2 linked regions of the Homo sapiens genome follow. The protein of the gene in region 2 interacts with the protein of the main gene of each other region in a pairwise test. Each region holds a gene or a part of one and is shown on either strand. Other genes may lie near its edges. The genes, in order: BTG3 and MAPK8IP3.

Evidence for each region.
Region 1: the proteins of MAPK8IP3 (region 2) and BTG3 interact in a two-hybrid assay, tested with the Homo sapiens proteins (one large-scale study listed by BioGRID and IntAct).

What each region holds. Positions count from the first base shown.
Region 1 is NC_000021.9:17,595,755-17,599,577, forward strand, and holds part of BTG3 (protein BTG3), read right to left. Parts: intron 3,071-3,823; coding exon 2,863-3,070; intron 1-2,862. UniProt on the Homo sapiens protein: Overexpression impairs serum-induced cell cycle progression from the G0/G1 to S phase.
Region 2 is NC_000016.10:1,747,380-1,751,202, reverse strand, and holds part of MAPK8IP3 (C-Jun-amino-terminal kinase-interacting protein 3), read right to left. Parts: intron 2,960-3,823; coding exon 2,857-2,959; intron 2,602-2,856; coding exon 2,483-2,601; intron 1-2,482.

The sequences.
Region 1 (3,823 bases), on a different chromosome or scaffold from region 2:
AGAAGGCTTTATAGGCATATTTTCGTTTCTTTTGGTAAATATTTAATACTTAGGAGTGGAACTGCTGAGTAATAGAAGAGTTACACATTTAACGTTAAAAAGTTCCAGTTTTCCAAAGTAGTGGTACTATTTTACATGACTAGCAAGTTTATGAATCTAGCTGCTTCACATCCTTGCTAACATTTCATGCTGTCAGGCTTTTAAATTGTGCAGTTCTGGAAGAACTAGTGTTTCATATGGATTTAATCTGCATTCCTCTGATCATAAATGAGGCCATTCACATAACTCCTTTTGTAAAGTGTTTATTCACATCTTTTGCTCCTCCTGCCCTTTTTTTGAGATTACAGCAGGATATGCCCATTATTTTTCATTGAATCATTTACCTTTTACTAGTGATTTGTGAGCGATTTTAAAAAAAGTATATTCTGGAAATAAGTCCTTTACAGATATATGTAATGAGAATATTTTGTCCTAGTCTATGGTTTGCCCATTTTCTTAATGGTTTCTTTGATGAACAAAAAGATGATTAATTTTGATGAAGTCCAGTTTGTCAATTTTTTTCCCTTATTAGTTACTTTTTGTGACCCTCTAGAGGAAATATTTGCCTGTCACAAAATAAAGATTATATTTCCCTATGTTTTCTTCTAAAAGCGTCAGAGATTTATCTTTTATGTCTAGGTACACAATCCATCTCAAATCAATATTTTTGTGTATGGTGTCAGCTAAGTTAGGTTCGTTTTTTTTCCTACACAGATCATCCAGTTGTTTCAGCACAAGTTCTTGAAGACTTTCCCCATTGAATTGCTTTGGCACTTTTGTTAAAAGGGAGAAAAAAGACTAACTGTATGTATGTGGGTCTACTTCTGGACTCTCTATCCTGTGCCATCAATATATTTGTATGTTTTTAAACCATTACCACACTGTCTTGATGAATATATAATAGCTTTGAATTAGTGTGAGCCCTCCAACTGATCCTCCTTTTTTAAAATTTTGAATCAATTTGTCACTTTCCAGAAAAAAACCTTTTAAGATGTTCATTGATACTGAATTGGATCTACAGATCTATTTCAGGAGAACTGACACAATCTTCATTTCTTCGTTTTTTAAGATATGAATAATTCTTTATCCCCTCTCTTGGGATACCTTTTAGAAAACAGTAGAGAACAAAAATTCCAAGCTAGAAATTTTGTTGTCCTTATTTGATAAAACTTTTTTAAAGCTTGTGGCAATGCCAGATTCAAGATACTAGAAAGAAGAAAATCAAAGTGGGCCATTTGCACTAGCTTTCACACAAGTAGTGTTTCTCTATTATAAAATGTTTTGCTAATGAGTATTAGGCCAAGGAGAAATGTTTTCCTTAAAAAGCACGTAAGAGACACCTCAATTTCCATACCTTTCTGTTATCCTAATAGTCTTTCAACATGAGGGAAAATAAATGCAATTTAATTTTAAAAGAAATCCTAAAAATTAAAGGTTAATTTGCTTGTAAAAAATTAGCAGCAATCAATTTAATTTGAGACTTACATTCTTGCTTAACAACAAATAAAATTCTGAGGTAAAATTGCCACACATTTGGATGAATTCCAGAAAATTCAATATACCTAATTTGCAATATATAATCCATCACACAGAGAAAAAAAATGCCTCAAATATTTATGGCAAGGTTTTTAAAAATGATCCTGAAGTACAAATACTATGTTTACTTATTTATATAGGGAATGTCTCTGGAAGGATACTAAAAAAAAGAAAAAAAAACCTGGTAATGAATGTCTCTGTGGAAATGCATAGGGACTGGTGGTTGGGGAGAAAGAGGACTTCTCACTATTATACTGTCTTGTACTGTTTGAAGTTTCATAAAGCCAGGTACATGTTATATACATATACATATACATACACATATACATAGAATCCTAAATTATGATAATCTTCAGAAATAATCTTCCCCTAAAGTCTAGGAAGAATAATTCAACTGAGAAAAAAATGAGAAAACCAAAAATTAAGTTACACTGAAATAATGTTCATTATGTAAATGTATGCTGAATTTAAAAGTTTAGTTTATCATACTAAAAGCTCCAATATTCTGCTTCTTACTCATTAGGTCTAAATTTTCATTTTCAGCTCAACCTTACCACAAACCTGGTATGTTTCACATTTAATCAAAGCAAGTAAGTAAAAATAGATAACCTTTAAAAATTAGTAATAAGTACATTTACAGAATAAGGCTCAACTCAAAAAATCTCTTTAAATTGTTATGACTTTAAAATATCTTTCCTGTTGAAGAATGCTGTTTGGTCAACAATTTTTTAAAGTCGATTAAATGTTCTTTGGTATGTAGATATAAATAGTAAATCAGTGAATGGATCTGTAAGTGCAGGCACACTAGCTATATGACTTTTCAACTAGTAAAGCAAAAAGGGAGACAATGTTTCAGCTTGAGTAAAATATTAATTATAATATAATAAATTTAGAGAGGTTTCTCTTTAATCATGGAACGGGAGAGAATAGAAAGTTAAACCCAAAGGTACAAAACAAAGTGTTACATACTACAAAAAATAAGTGGTAACTTTTGAATGAGATTTTAAAATATCAGGAATGTTTTACCATCATGAATTTTCTACTTTTTGCCAATTTTTCTGAAATATATTTATCCTAGTTATTGTATAGTGAAGCTGACCTTTGATAAAATGACTCAGGATGCCTATTTACGTGCCAGAGAAACAGCTTTCCCTTAGCATGGGGAAAGGCAAGAACTATTATCCAGAATCTCAAGTCAGAAACCTTGGGCAATGCCAAGTAGGACTACCTGAAAGGTCCTGGCAATCCCTGCACATCCCTTTAAAACTGAGCTGTTTTCATGGTTACCTGGTACACAGGACTTGCGGCTGCAGTCACCGAACTGGGTTTCACTTCCATTTCCTTACTTGTTTCTTCATCTGAAGAAGAGGATCCTGAATGATAATCAGAGGTAACCTTATCAAGGGCCCTGGTAACTTTCCTGGAGATCTCATCCTTGTTCTCATCTTTATTTTCAAAGCTGGCAACAATGAATGCATTGTTTTTCTCTCCATACCTAAGAATAAAATTAAAAACTTACAAATCTTGAAGTCACATCAGCAAAGCAAAAAATGTCCATAAAAACAAAGAGATCTGGACATGCCATCAATACAAGGCAAAGATTGAATCATCACAGAACTTGACCCTACACATTTAATATCCTAATACAGCTCAATGCCAGCAAGCAAACCACAGTTTTCTACTTCTGGTCTATTTAAGTATTCATAAACATAACCCCATTTTCTTTCCCTTATTTTCTTTCTACTAATTCCTAAAAAAAAAATTGTTTAAAACATCAAAAAAAGTCCATTGTTTTGATTACATTTTTGTATGTACCAATGAAATTGGTTGTACAATAAAACATTCTGATGTATTTTTATTTTTTTGAGATGGGTTTCACTCTGTTGCCCAGGCTGGAGTGCAGTGGCACAATCACAACTCACTGCAGACTCTACCTCCTGGGCTCAGGTGATCGATCCTCCAACTTCAAACCTCCCAAGAGGCTGGGACTACAGGAGTGTACCACCATGCTCAGCTAATTTATATACATTTTTAGAGACAGGGTTTCACCATGTTGCTGAGGCTGGTCCCAAACTCCTAGGCTCAAGAGATCCACCCACTTCAGCTACCCAAAGTGCTAGAATTACAGGCATGCGCCACTGGCTGATTTTTTTTTTTTTTTTTTTGAGACGGAGTCTCACTCTGTTGCCCAGGCTGGAGTGCAATGGGTGCAATCTCGGCCCACTACAATCTCCACCTCCCAGGTGTT
Region 2 (3,823 bases):
ATTACGGGCATGAGCCACTGTGCCCGGCCTCAGTTTCTTCATCTATAAATGGGGACACTGGCAGGAGGGCGGCTTGATGCTGCAGTAAGGACCGACGGTGGCCGTGCCCGTCAGTGCTGCCACCCACGGAAATGACACCGCCCACAATGAGAAGGGCAGCTGCGACCTGACACTGTGTGTTCTGCGTACACATGTGTCATACCTCTGTGGGCCATGGGCCATGGTGTCTGGTAGGTGTCACCAAGACATTAAAACAATCGGCCAGGAGTGGTGGCTCACGCCTGTAATCCCAGCACTCTGGGAGGCCGAGGCGGGTGGATCACAAGGTCAGGAGATCAAAACCAGCCTGACCAACACTGTGAAACCCCATCTCTACTAAAAATACAAAAATTACCTGGGCATGGTGGTGCATGCCTGTAATCACAGCTACTCACGAGGCTGAGGCAGGAGAATTGCTTCAACCCGGGAAGGCAGAGGTTGCAGTGAGCCGAGATCGCACCACTGCACTCCAGCCTGGCCCACAAAGTGGGACTCCGTCTCAAAAAAAAAAAAAATCATTATAGCATGGTGGGGAGGTTCCCTCTGGTTTTTACTCTCTTCTTGGCATTTGCTGATATTATTTAAATATTATTATAAGCATATATAATTTTTTCAAAAAATAAAAAAAATAGCTAAAAAATATACATTATCGGCCGGGCATGGTGGCTCACACTTGTAATCCCAGTACTTTGGGAGCCTGAGGCGGGTGGATCACCGGAGGTCAGGAGTTCAAGACCAGCCTGGCAAATATTGTGAAACCCCGTCTGCACTAAAAATACAAAAATTAGCCGGGCGTGGTGGCGCGTGCCTCTAATTCCAGCTACTTGGGAGGCGGAGACAGGAGAATTGCTTGAACCTGGGAGGCGGAGGTTGCAGTGAGCCAAGATGGCGCCACTGCATTCCAGCCTGGCGACAGAGCGGGACTTTGTCTAAGAAATAAATAAATAAATAAATAAATAAACATTATCTGAATTATGTAGAGTGGAAGGATAGCAAAATATTAAAAGAGATTACCCCTATTTAGCAGGATTTTTCTGAAGATTAATCTCCTTTGGATTTTTTATATATATTTTTGCAACACATGAGAAAAGTTCCACAGAAAATTCACAGCACCAAAGTGCGCCCTCACCGCCGTCCTGATCTCGGGGAGCATTCCATCTTTCACCACCAAGTACAGTGTGTCCAACACTACTGAACTGAACACTTCAACTCGGTTAACATGGTGAATATTATGTTACTCATACATGGCCTCTACTGGGGCACTTTCTGACTCAAGCCAGGATGAGACAGGCCTCCCTGTCAGGGTGAGGCCCTGCTGGTGCTCAGCACCCCACATTACTCTGCTCCCTGGAGGTCCCCCTGCCCCAGATAAGACAATCAGCTCAGGAGTACACCAGGAGGCAGCCTGGGATCCAGGAGCTTCTCACCCTGCGGGCTGGGGGAAGCAAGGCCATGGCGAAAGGCTCGGACCCTGACGCGTGCAAGGGGACAGACTGCGCTGTCCTACTGCCCGCCTGTCATGCCTGAAAGCCTGGGGCTCAGAGCCACATGGCCAGTGCTCAGCTGCCAGCAGATGCCATGAGCACAGGAGACTCCACGTGCTGACAGGAAGCAGGTCCTGATGTTTGCAGCCGCCACAGACCTAGGCACAGGGGTCCGGTGTAGACCTGTGGCGCTGAGGTGAAGCCAGGGCTGTCTGCGGAGGAGTGGGCAAGTGGGCACCCTCCCAACCTCCTCCAAAGTCAATGGTCCTAGGGTGTGCGGCGAGGCTAATGGGCACAGAGCAGAGAAGCGGGCACCCTCCCAACCTCCTGGAGAGTTGGCAGCCCTGAGGGTGTGTGCAGAAGATGGGGCGAGGCTAACAGGCATGGATTTCTTTTAGGGATGGCGGAACATTCTAAACTGAGATCATGGGGGTGGCTGCCCCACCTGTGAGTACGCTGTAACCCACCGCACCGTGCACTCGAAGCGGGTGAATTTTATGATACAGTCGACCCTCAATACCCACGAGTTCTGCATGTGTGGATTCAACCAGCCTCACAGAAAATGTACAGGCCTGTGGTGGCCGTGTCTGTACTGACGTGTACACTTTTTTCCTGTCATTATTCCCTAAACGACACAGCATAACAGCAACTACTTACACAGCATCTACAACATAACCTAGAGGTGATTTAGAGTACACGGGAGGGTGCAAACACTACACCACTTCAGAGCAGGGACTTGAGAAGCCTCAGATTTTGGCATCCTTGGGGCAGTCCAGAAACCAATCCCCTGTGGAGATGGAGGGACAATTCCATGTGAAACGCAACTCAACAAAGCTGGAAAAAAAAAGGTTCCTAGCTCACAGCTGACAGAGGACTTTCCTTTCATTACAAACAAAACCAACAGCAGAAAGCCCCAGCATTGTGCAGGCACAGCGGTGCGGGGGAAGGCTTGCGCTTACCTAGGAGGTCGGCCCCTTCGTCCACATCCCCGATGACCTCAGACCCTGCCGTCGACAGCTCATGGTACAGGGAGTCGGTGTTGATGCCGAAAGCTTTGTTCACGATGCCCTGGGTTGGGCTGTTGGGATCCACAGGTCGGGAGAGAGAGCAGAGTCAGTGGGCAGCCCGGAGTGGCTGCGTCTGCAGACTCTTCCAACACCTCCCACCGTGGCCATTCAATGCCCACACTGCCCTGCAGGCCGGTCGTGGATGGAGGCGGTAGGCCACAGCCTTGATGGTTCTCCCAGTGGTGGCAGAGGAAGACTTCACCAAAGACACCGACTTGGATAAATACTGAGCCCCCAGGACCCCAGGGCCTGGGCTGAGCCAGTACCTGCTTCCTGTGCGGTCCAGGCGGGTCTCTGGACACATGTCCAGCTCTGGCGTGGAGTCAATAATGTCTTGAACATCAGACCACTCGTCACTGCTGCCCATGCCTAGGGGAGAGCACAGGGGCACCTGGGGTCAGGAGAGGGTCTGGCAGCCTCTGCCCTGCTCACGGCTGCCCTCGGAACCTGAGTCTGGTGGGCTGGAGCTGGACCACCTGCTAGGTGGGGATGATCAGAAAACAGCTCTTCCCAGGCTGACTGGGCAGAGGTCGAACCCCAGCACAGTAGACGTCTGAGGCGGGGCCTGGAGCGGGGTGGGTTGCAGCAGCCTCTCTGCATGGGAGTGTCAGCAGTAAGCCCAGTCCCCAGAGATCCCACGTCCAAGCAAGCCAGTGGCTGGACCTCCTCTCGGCCCTCATTCCCCTCTTCTCTTTCCCTCACTGGCCTGTGTGCCGTGGGGCAACGCAGGTTACTGGTTAGTGGGGCTGTGTGCCATGGGGTGACGTAGGCTACTGGTTAGTGGGACTGTGTGCCGTGGGGCGATGCAGGTTACTGGTTAGTGGGGCTGTGTGCCGTGGGGCGATGCAGGTTACTGGTTAGTGGGGCTGTGTGCCGTGGGGCGATGCAGGTTACTGGTTAGTGGGGCTGTGTGCCGTGGGGTGACGCAGGCTACTGCCTTAGTTGTGTCTCCCCAAATCCATATGTTAATAGATACCCCCTAGCATGACTGTATTTGGAGGCTGGGCCTTTCAAGAGGTGATTATGGTAAAATGAGGTCACGTGGTGGCTCTAATCCAATGGGGCTATGTCCTTGTAGGAGCTGGAGATGAGGACACAGACACACCCAGGGGATGCCTGTTGAGGACACAGGGAGAAGGTGGTGTCTACAAGCCAAGGAGTGGCCGCAGGAGGAACCTACCCTGCCAGCGCCTTGATCTTGGACCCCAGCCTCCGGGCTGTGAGGAACACGTC